2 separate regions of the Homo sapiens genome follow, and region 1 is reported to be linked to region 2. Evidence: microRNA targets listed by miRTarBase, many of them from high-throughput screens and not tested one by one. Region 2 holds a microRNA gene; the other region holds the end of a gene's coding sequence.

Region 1 (5,237 bases), not on the chromosome of region 2:
ATATATACACATTTTTAACAAGTGGTCCATGTTTTAACAGGTTTGGCCAGCCCTTCTTACAAGCTTCCTTTGTGCCAAATTTTCATTGTTTTTTGAAATCACCAAACCATGTTACTAATGTTGTGTTTTGGTTTGTTTTACAGTGATCCTTTTCTGTATGGCTGCCCTAATATTTCCAATAGGATTTTACATCAATGAAGTCGGAGGTCAACCTTATAAATTACCCAACAACACAGTAGTTGGGTCATCATATGTACTTTTTGTCTTATCAATTTTCTTTACAATAGTAGGACTTCTATTTGCTGGCAAAGTTTGTTTACCAGGCTGATGAATGTCTAAATTGCTTGACTCTTATTATTTTTTATTTTATTTTATTTTTTTATTTTTGGAGGGTGGAGAGGACAAAGGCGAGGCATCTGAGCAGGCCTCTCATGGGAAGATGCTCAGATGAAACTGATGCTGAGAAGGAAAAAAAAATGCTTTGGTTTGTTCTCACTATGCACTTTGGATTTAAAAAAAAAAAAAAAAAGGAGAGCCTTTTCCATAACCAAATACAGACAATATTGACTAAATCTCCTGAGCATATTCAGGCAGTCAGGTCTGCACTGTGATAGCAACCTAGAGAAGGAGAATGCTTTATACCGAAAAGCATGTGGCCCTTTGTGACTCTGTTATTCCGTTTTTAATGTCTAATGATTCATTAGAGGAAAAAAAAAAGTCTAAGTATTTATGTGTCATGGTGGACCAGAGGGATGCAAGAGAAGTTCATGTGGGGCTGGCCTCACCTCCTAAGAAATTAGTGTTCACAACTTCCTTGTAATAGTATGAGCCTTTGGCACCAGAATGGATTGCCGTTGCATTACTGCACCAAGAAGCCAATAGATCAAAACTTGTTTGCTAAAATGTATGTAAAAATTCTGAAATTCCCTCTCTCTGTGTACAAAAAAAAAAAAAAATCAAACACTAAGACACATGTTTTGGGTGGGTGGGTGGGGGAAATCTTCCTTATATTTATATAAATATATATAATATATATATTTTGCTGATGCAGTATACAGTGTGTATATATGTGTGTGTGTGTGTGTGTGTATGTGTGTGTAAATTTATATACACACACATGCAAACAGTTCCTGGAAGAGAATTCTGAATGCTTTGCTAGCAAAACACTGTGGTGTGCAAACCTAGAACCCAATAGAAAAAAAAGCCATTTATCTGAAGGCTGCATAGTGGAGAGAGTCTTCAGTTTACCTCATTCTTTGTAGCAGCCCTTGATTTTAACAGGTTTTTGTAATAGGTACAGATAATCCCATACCTTTCTAGGTGCGATTTTAAGTTAAGCTAAAAATTATTTGTAGGGTTAATTTATTTGTATATGATAGTAGAAGGTAAGATCATGTCAAACCTTATAATTTGGGGAATCTGACACTATTTAAATTATTGGCAACTGTTGTCTGTTGTACAGAGATTCTTTTTCTACTGGCTCAGTCTGTTACATTAATAATGCATTTTATATGTTCAGGCACACTTTACATAAATACAAAGTTCGCTAGTAAATATCTGGCTATTTTGGCTATTTACAACACTAATTTCATTATTTTTATCTGTAAGCATTATTAATACATCTTTACCAAAACCTGAGCAATACAATATTTTCTTTATATGTTATATGCCTTTGTTTGCTAAAAGCTAATATTTTTGCATTTACTTTAAAGGGCTGTACTAAACCCACAGCTTTAAGTTCTTCCCTAAAAGAAGCATTGCAGCTAACCCTTGAACTCACAGTTTTAAAATACAGTATTTCTCTTCTCCACATCTCCATGCCTTCGCATCAATGCTTGTTTTTCCTGGTGAACACTATAGATAATCTCCTGTTTGAAATGTGGGACAGGGTGTTTCATGGCAGTGGAGCTAAGTTTCTCCTCTTTATAGTGAACTGGTGACCCAAATGTCCCTGTCATTTATAGTGAACTGATGACCCAAATGACTCCCTGTCAGTAGAGTCCCATGTGGCCCATGCTTCACACAAGCAGAAATGAACGCACTGTTTTTAAGGCTAGATTATCAGTTCTAGAATGATTACTTCAAAGATGGGAGCTACCTCCTCAGATATTCACACTATGAAATGGAGGTGCTTGATGTGTTTCACACTGGCTTGTTTGACAGTCTTCTATCTTACTGTTAATTCAGCAGTATTTTATTGTGAAAGAAAACCCCAGTGTTTGAGCTCACTCAGGAATTGGGGAGAGAGATGGACCACCACTGTGGTGCATTTCTTAAGTGTTCTGGGAGAATGTCATACTTTTCCTTCCCAGAGTAAAAGAAACCTTTGGGAGATCCTGAGGGAGACTGTTTCTCCCCAAGTATGATGATGTCTAGTCAAGTCTAAGAATACCACTGGACATGTTCTATGGACATTTGGGATTGCAGTTGCTATTCTGATTTGATTGGTCCTCAGTCAAATGGATCACTTTGAAGGAAAGCTTTGGTTGTCACCGTTATATACCACTGAGATAAAGTGTTAGCAAAGTATGGTTCAAATTAACTTATGACATGACCAAGAGCTTTTCTCTTCCAAAAGATGAATTGTATTGTAAATAGTTTCTCAAAATATTTTTAACTGGATCATGAGCATGGGGAGAGAAAGTTTCTCAGCTGCTAAGAATTTCCCCACTGTTTACTTCTTTCACTTATGGTGGTATTGCATTTAAGATTACAAAATTTAAGGTTTTATTTGTATCTATTACCCAAACCATTAAATTGTCTTTAATTTCATTGTTGTCTTGGAGGTCCAGTGCATACAGGGCTGATGGGGGAAAACTCCCTCTAGCCAGTCAGCACTCTAACCCAGGATTAAACCATCCCATCAAGTAGTATGTGAAGTCAAGTCTTCGTACTCTTGCAGACCAGACATTGAAATGGATTCATTCATATAGATTTCTATAAATCCTATAAGTGAAAAGATAGACAACTGTCCGCAGTTGCTTTTAAAAAAGGTCACTATAATAAGTACTATATAGTACAGTATTAATTTATAGCAGGAAATCGTATCTTGTAAACTGTATATAAAACACTGTTTTATGGTGCAATCATTTGTCAAACTTTTGTCTGTTTCATTGTTTTTAGAGTGTGTGCATTCTTCTCATACCTAAGAATATCACTGTAAAATCTGCTGAAAACTATTTTTAGGTTTTATTTGCACAAGACTGAATTAGTTTGACATTTTTGGAAGCTCCTATTGAACATACCCAAACATCTGTAAACATGAAAAATCTTCAATTTATTAAAAGCAAACATTTCAGTATGATTCTTTCCAAAGGTAATCCATGTTCTATGTTGTTAATGTGTGTATGTAATTTTTCTGACTCTTCCACCTCTTATAAACCTATTTTCTGTTTCATTTGTTTTGTTTTTGAAGGATGGCTCTTTTTTCTTTTTAATGTTCTAGATGACCAAAACACTATTGGTTTTTACCCTTTTGCCTAAAGCTTTGATATCCCCACTTGATGTTCTGTGAATTCACTGTTTAATCTATTAAGTGAAATAATAAATAGTCCTGGTGACAAACAATCTGTTGATTTAGAGGAAAGGCCCTGAAAAATACAGTATTGGAAACTAACTTTGCATATGCTGTTAGCTATTATTTTGCATCATGGGCTTCATGGGAAGAACATGTTGCATTTATTTTGTCTTTATTAAAAGACTACTAGCCACAAGTTACTCTGATTATAGTAACTGTTTTATCAACCCACTTCATCTTTAAAAAATTAAATTTACATTCACAATTCAAAACAGTAAGCTGTCTTTCAGAAAATTTTTGAAGGATAAAAACATGAAGGAAAAAAGTGGCCCGTGTAGGTAGGATTCCCTACACAGGACTTTTAGTTGTATCACCTCAAGAGATTTTGAAGTTTGTGATCAAGGTCTGTATATTATCCCAAACTTTATTAAGAATTGTTTTCTAATTGGTTATAACATTTTTCAATTAATAGTTTCAAAACAAATTGTTAATACAACTGTATAAAATGAACATAATTTTCCTCACTTGTATTTTTGTTATTGAGCAAGTTTATCAAAATAAATTGTCTACTAAAGAAACTAAAAAGGCTTCTATTACTTTGAAATAAGCTTCATTTAAAAAATTGATTTCTTATGGAGGTTTCACATATTCACAAGTGCCACTTCCATGCCTCTTGGGTTGGTTTTTTGTTGTTGGCATTGGGGGGTGAGGGCGGTCTTTCCCTATCTTCTTCCACTCCCACTCTTTGCTCACCGCTAGAGAAGAGATGCCATTAATATTCCAGGACGTGGATTAGGCCATGATTACCCAAGAGTCACTCAGCAATAAAAGACCACATACATGTGGCTTTCCCTTCTGCGTCATGCTTCCATGAGCTAGGAGAGAGAAACCAAGCCAAAGCCCTCAAGCCAACTATCTTTCTATTCTTTCTTCCTTGCACATAGACCCAAGTCCATCTTTGCTTCAGTCTTCTGTTTCTACTTTACTCCAGGCCAAAAGATCTTAGCTTTTAAAATCTTAAAGTATGGGCTGGAGGAGCAAATACAGAGGCCTTTAGGCCCTGTCACAGCTTAACTATAGCTCTCTCTGGGGGTGTCAAGATTAGCCCAACCGAATAATAATAATAAAATATTTACAGTTTGCTGCTGATTCTTCCTTGTGTGGCCTTTTGAGGAGCCTCCTGGGGAATTGGAGGATTAAGACATGGTAAGATTTAGATGTTCTTGGGTTCTAAGATTAAGGGGTTTCCTTGGAGGTGAGACTTGAAGTACTATGTCTGGGAAAGTTCCAGGCAAACTAGGATAAGTTGGTCACCCTACCCTATCTTCACATCATCTAAATCTTCTCCTGATTTGTAACACAGATTAGAGGTTTTTGGGGGGTTATTTTCTATAAACATTAATGAATAGGTCAATTGGAAATTGTAATGGTAGATTTATGCTGAGCTGCTATGGTGGAGGGGACACTTTTTCTATTTGGTAATACCTTAGGAAAAGGTAACACAGTGGCTTTGAAAACAACATGGGTTCAAAAATACTTTATTTTGACTTATTCTTCTATCATCTCTATTCTAGCCACTATGAGAAGATTATAGGAAAAACACCAAGACTAGAGGACTCTGGGTTCCTTTTATGCAAAGTCAACTCTTCTGGGTCACAGTTACCCAGCAACAAAAATAAAGGTAGTTATTTATAAATGGTATTAAAGATAGAAAGCACAA
Region 2 (5,237 bases):
AATGCCAGGCAGGTCTTCATTGTGGAATTAAACAGCGGTGGGAGCAAGCGGAATAACCGAGTTCCCCTCCCGCACCTGAGTGCCGGCAGCGAGCCGCGAGCCGGGACCTGTCACCCGCGGGAAGCCCCGGCCGCCCGACGAACAGCATCTCCGGTTTCCGCCTCCGGCTCCGGCGCGGCTCCCCCGGCCCGCCTCTGCGTCAGGGACGCGGAAACCCCGTAGGAGCAGGGCGGGCGGGGAAAGCGAGGTTTAACTAACTCCGCAGCTATATTCTTCCGCCGCGAGGTAAAGAGTCCCAACCCAACCCCGGGCCCTAGGATTTCCAGCGACCCTGTAATATCGAGAAATTACCACATTTGGGTTTTTCTACCAACTTGCTTAGGATTTTATCCGAGGTAACGACCCCAGGATCACAATTTTGTAGCTGACCGAAGCACGGCGAGAAAATTCCTCCGCAAGAAACGGGTTCCGGCCACGAGCCTATAAAAAACGGGTGGTTGGGCGCCGCTGTCTTTTCAGTCGGGCGCTGAGTGGTTTTTCGGATCATGTCTGGTGGCTCCGCGGATTATAACAGGTATGCAGTCTGTTGGCGGTCGCGGTCTGTAGTGAAGGTCATAGGGCGCCAGGGGAGATGATAGTGGATGGCACGGAGGCAAAAACTCTAAATTAATGGACGTTTTCTTAGGGTACAGCACTCCTGTGCCCTTCCAGAAGCTTCCATGATGGGTAGGGCCCGGATTGTGGGGAGATAGGACGGTGGTGCGAAAGCAGTGGCTAAAGGGCGTTTTTCCTCTCTAAGACATTACGAAACTTCGGCTGCTTTCCTTCCCAGTGTAGAGCACGGGAAACATGGAGTAAAAAGCCGTGGCGCAGTCCGAGTTCGGTACACTGTAACCAGGACCCGAAGCTTTATTTTCGGTCATCCACACGAGTTGGGGGAGGGTCCTAGGCTTTACTTGGGGAAGGGTTGGAGGCAGCGGTCTCCACTCGGCCACGGCGCGGAGGCGACGGGACAGGACCGGTGCCGGTGAACCGTTGGCATCGCCCTCGCCAGGCCGCTCCGCCCGCGTCAATCACCCGGCTTGCGCATTGTTGGGGGCGGAGTTCGGCGCTCCGAGCTCTCGCGAGACGCTCCGCAGTTGAAACGGGATCGCCATGCGCTCGGGCCTGGGGGGCTGCCTTTCCGGGCATCCGCAGGCCCCAACCTTTAGGGAAGGCGCACAGTGTGGATATTCGCCCTGAGGCTGCTGCTTTAGCTTGTGCAGGGGAGGCTAACGTGCTGAGACGGGTTGCAAAGGGCTATGCGCTTAAGGTGCAGTTGAGGTGGCCTGGAAGGGGTGTCTGACTGCAGTATTCTTGTCAGCAGAGAACATGGCGGCCCAGAGGGAATGGACCCCGATGGTGTCATCGAGGTAAGAAACGGTTGTGGATCTTGAAGCTTTGGAAAGGTGAGTGTGTTCATCTCATTTATGCGTGCATTATTTTTTCTAACTTACAGAGCAACTGGAATGAGATTGTTGATAACTTTGATGATATGAATTTAAAGGAGTCTCTCCTTCGTGGCATCTATGCTTACGGTTTTGAGAAGCCTTCCGCTATTCAGCAGAGAGCTATTATTCCCTGTATTAAAGGTAAAAGAAACTGGCATTTTTAGGAAATTGTTCTACATAGACATGAACCATAAAAGGGAAAGTAACCTCTGGGGGACTAGCACCTGTTTGTATTCCTTAAAGTGAAATGATGGCAATCATCTTTCGGGACTGACCTGAAATGAAGAGAATACTCATTGCTGATCACTTGATTATTTGGGCATAATGTTCCAAATGGAATACATGGTGTGAAGTAGAAGTGACAATTTGATGTGGGATCGGTAAATGTGTATCCTACTTTTTTTAGGGTATGATGTGATTGCTCAAGCTCAGTCAGGTACTGGCAAGACAGCCACATTTGCTATTTCCATCCTGCAACAGTTGGAGATTGAGTTCAAGGAGACCCAAGCACTAGTATTGGCCCCCACCAGAGAACTGGCTCAACAGGTATTGATAGTGTAGTTCAAAAAAACTGCTTGCGTGTTGCATAGGTTTCAGGTTTCACAACTGTGAAGAATTTAAAACTTAGTATAAATTGGTCCTACCAGATCCCTCCTTTTAATTGTCCATGCATGCAGGGAGTTTTTGTTGAAAGTTTTAAAAGAACTGGGTATGCAGGTATGGTTTGTAGGGTTGTATACTAATAGATTGAGAATCCGAAGCGCTCTCTTGGATGTACTAGATCTGTCCCCATTTTTTAAGTTTGAATGCAGTTGTGCAACATGAAAACTGCAGTGACATGTTACCATTTGACTGTCTCCGTAGTTCGTGATGCATCTGTTGCATGCTATGTTTTCAAAGCTCACTGCTATATTGGCTTTGAAGTAAACCTTCCTAATAAAGCTGTAGGCTTTATTGAGGTCAGGATTATATAAGGCACAATACCCTCTGGGGGAAAAAAATCATTTGCCCTAGCTGTAATTACAGAACATAAATTTCACTACGTACTCCCTACCTACAGTGAAGAATAATGTAGGAAACGTTATTCTTGGATTGTCTAGCTGATGCGTGGAGCAGCAGCATCCCAAGTTTGACAAGGCATAAGAAAGACATTAAGGGAATTTTACCTTGCAGCAGTTAGGTCGTCTGCATTTTAAGCTTGGAAGTAGTTTTGTGCTGTGCATGCATAAAAGCTGTTGGCAGACCAGATTATATTTGCCTTTATGCTTTAAAAATTAGTCATTGATCCTGGAGTTCTGCGGAATAATAATTAAGGCTTGGGTTTTAGATCCAAAAGGTAATTCTGGCACTTGGAGACTATATGGGAGCCACTTGTCATGCCTGCATTGGTGGAACAAATGTTCGAAATGAAATGCAAAAACTGCAGGCTGAAGCACCACATATTGTTGTTGGTACACCCGGGAGAGTGTTTGATATGTTAAACAGAAGATACCTTTGTAAGTATTGTCTTTAAGAGAGTATTTTTTTTAAAACTGTTAACATAGTTGAAAAGTCAAATTGTATCACTGAGTAGATCTAGAAATGACAGTATGACTTTGTTTCTAACAGCTCCAAAATGGATCAAAATGTTTGTTTTGGATGAAGCAGATGAAATGTTGAGCCGTGGTTTTAAGGATCAAATCTATGAGATTTTCCAAAAACTAAACACAAGTATTCAGGTAAGCATTACTTCACCCCCCTCTTAAAGGTAGAGATGGGGTTTATTTAATGCAGGTACTGTTACAATACAACTGATGTGTTTTGTTGTCGTTCCCCCTGCTTAAAGCACTTGATGCATAACTCTGTCTACCTTCATTCCGTAGTAAGACAGAGACGCTTGGCTTCAGACATTTTCCTTTGGGTATTAATGTGTAAGTTGTGCTACAACATAATTTTCTCTTTTTAAGGTTGTGTTGCTTTCTGCCACAATGCCAACTGATGTGTTGGAAGTGACCAAAAAATTCATGAGAGATCCAATTCGAATTCTGGTGAAAAAGGAAGAATTGACCCTTGAAGGAATCAAACAGTTTTATATTAATGTTGAGAGAGAGGTAACTGTCTGATTGTTAGACATTATTTTACCTTCTTGTATAAGCACTGTGCTAAAATTGCAGACACTAGGACCATGTCTTGGTTTTTGCAATAATGCTAGCAGAGTACACACAAGAAGAAAAGTAACAGCACTAGATTGTAAAGACTGGGGTGGACCTCTTTCTTAATGTCCAATGTCCTTTGTCTTAAGATTTGGTGCAATATCTCATTAGACCTAACAGAATGAAGTTAATTTTTATAATTTCTACGTTTTGAGACTGGGTTATGAGACTGGCTAAGACTGGCCAATTTTGGTATTTTGGGTAGAGACAGTTTCACTTTCTTGAAACCCTGGTCTGGTTGGAACTCTGGGCTCTAAGTGCTAGGATCCCAAAGGGCTGGGATTACAGGCATTAGCACTGTGGCTGGCCCAGAATGAATTTTTAACTGAAGAGTTGGAAAAACTAAATGACTGTTAACTTTAACTTCTAAACATTACAGGAATGGAAGTTGGATACACTTTGTGACTTGTACGAGACACTGACCATTACACAGGCTGTTATTTTTCTCAATACGAGGCGCAAGGTGGACTGGCTGACTGAGAAGATGCATGCCAGAGACTTCACAGTTTCTGCTCTGGTAAGAGGTGTTCTAAAATGTCTGGATTTCCACTAAAGCAGGATTCAGACTACAATATAGCTGCTAAGTGCTGTGTTGTCGTTCCCCCTGCTTAAAATAAAGTTGTTTCTTAACTATACCTGTCTGCTATTCTCCTGTAGCAGCCAGGGACGCTTGGTCTCATACATGTTGATTAAAATTAAATACCGACCTGACTGGTGATTCTTGAATTAAGGTTTATTAATTTGCAGCATGGTGACATGGACCAGAAGGAGAGAGATGTTATCATGAGGGAATTCCGGTCAGGGTCAAGTCGTGTTCTGATCACTACTGACTTGTTGGTAAGTCTCTTAATGCTTTTTAAAAATCTACCAAAAGTTAGCTTTTTGGGGGGCAGGTTTTTAAGTAACCTTTGCCAACTTGGGCTATTTGGAAGAGTAAAAGACCACACTCCACAGTGGGCTATACCACTTAGTATAGTTCGCTACTATTTTGTGGCCTACATGACAGGTGTCAAGTTTTTTTGAATCAATTTTTAAAACATGCCATTGTGTTTCAGGCTCGCGGGATTGATGTGCAACAAGTGTCTTTGGTTATAAATTATGATCTACCTACCAATCGTGAAAACTATATTCACAGGTGAGAAGCCAGCATCTTGGCTGTATTGAAAAAAATTCATACGTTTTTCTACTGTGATTTGTATGAAAGGTAACATCAAATCAAGGAATAGATTCAGTAAAGTCAGTAGTGTTCAGTAAGATGATGTAATTAAATTTGTACTAGGGAAGGTTGATGAGAACAAAGTGGGAAAACTTGTAAACATTGCCCAGATTGTGGACATAGGGTTTTTTTCCACAATTGTTGGTCTTACCTTATGCTTGAGCTTTTAGTGATGTTCTTGTGTCCATGTGTTTTTCTTGGTGATTTTTTCTATAGTTGGGATTTTCTTGGTGTCGCCTGGTAGCAATTTGAGTGAACCCTGGTTTAGTTATAGTGGCTTTATCCCTAAATAAATTGAATTGTACTTTGTTATATGATGTAAAAAAAGACTTTTTAAAA

What was found. The annotated mature microRNA hsa-miR-1248 reads ACCUUCUUGUAUAAGCACUGUGCUAAA and lies in region 2 at 3,610-3,636, shown strand. An mRNA with a match to its seed (bases 2 to 7 or 8) in the 3' UTR can be bound and repressed. Matches are read on the target gene's strand: a 7mer-m8 pairs with bases 2 to 8, a 7mer-A1 pairs with bases 2 to 7 and ends in A, and an 8mer does both.
Region 1: miRTarBase lists MOSMO as a target of hsa-miR-1248. Seed matches in the 3' UTR shown: 7mer-A1 at 463-469 and 7mer-A1 at 623-629.

What each region holds. Positions count from the first base shown.
Region 1 is chr16:22,080,553-22,085,789 of GRCh38, forward strand. It overlaps MOSMO (modulator of smoothened), which reads left to right. Exons shown (of 3, transcript NM_001164579.2): 3 at 144-4,102. The coding sequence ends at 328. Among named protein-coding and RNA genes, the nearest start is that of VWA3A, 9.4 kb to the right of the region's middle.
Region 2 is chr3:186,783,066-186,788,302 of GRCh38, forward strand. MIR1248 (microRNA 1248) reads left to right here and starts at 3,607; the gene lies at 3,607-3,712. EIF4A2 (eukaryotic translation initiation factor 4A2) reads left to right here and starts at 512. Exons shown (of 11, transcript NM_001967.4): 1 at 512-574; 2 at 1,367-1,412; 3 at 1,499-1,631; 4 at 1,897-2,036; 5 at 2,818-2,986; 6 at 3,099-3,208; 7 at 3,437-3,580; 8 at 4,062-4,199; 9 at 4,430-4,519; 10 at 4,738-4,817. The coding sequence starts at 546. SNORD2 (small nucleolar RNA, C/D box 2) reads left to right here and starts at 1,731; the gene lies at 1,731-1,800. SNORA63B (small nucleolar RNA, H/ACA box 63B) reads left to right here and starts at 3,258; the gene lies at 3,258-3,382. It also overlaps SNORA81, SNORA63 and SNORA4. RefSeq lists an enhancer at 1,188-1,417.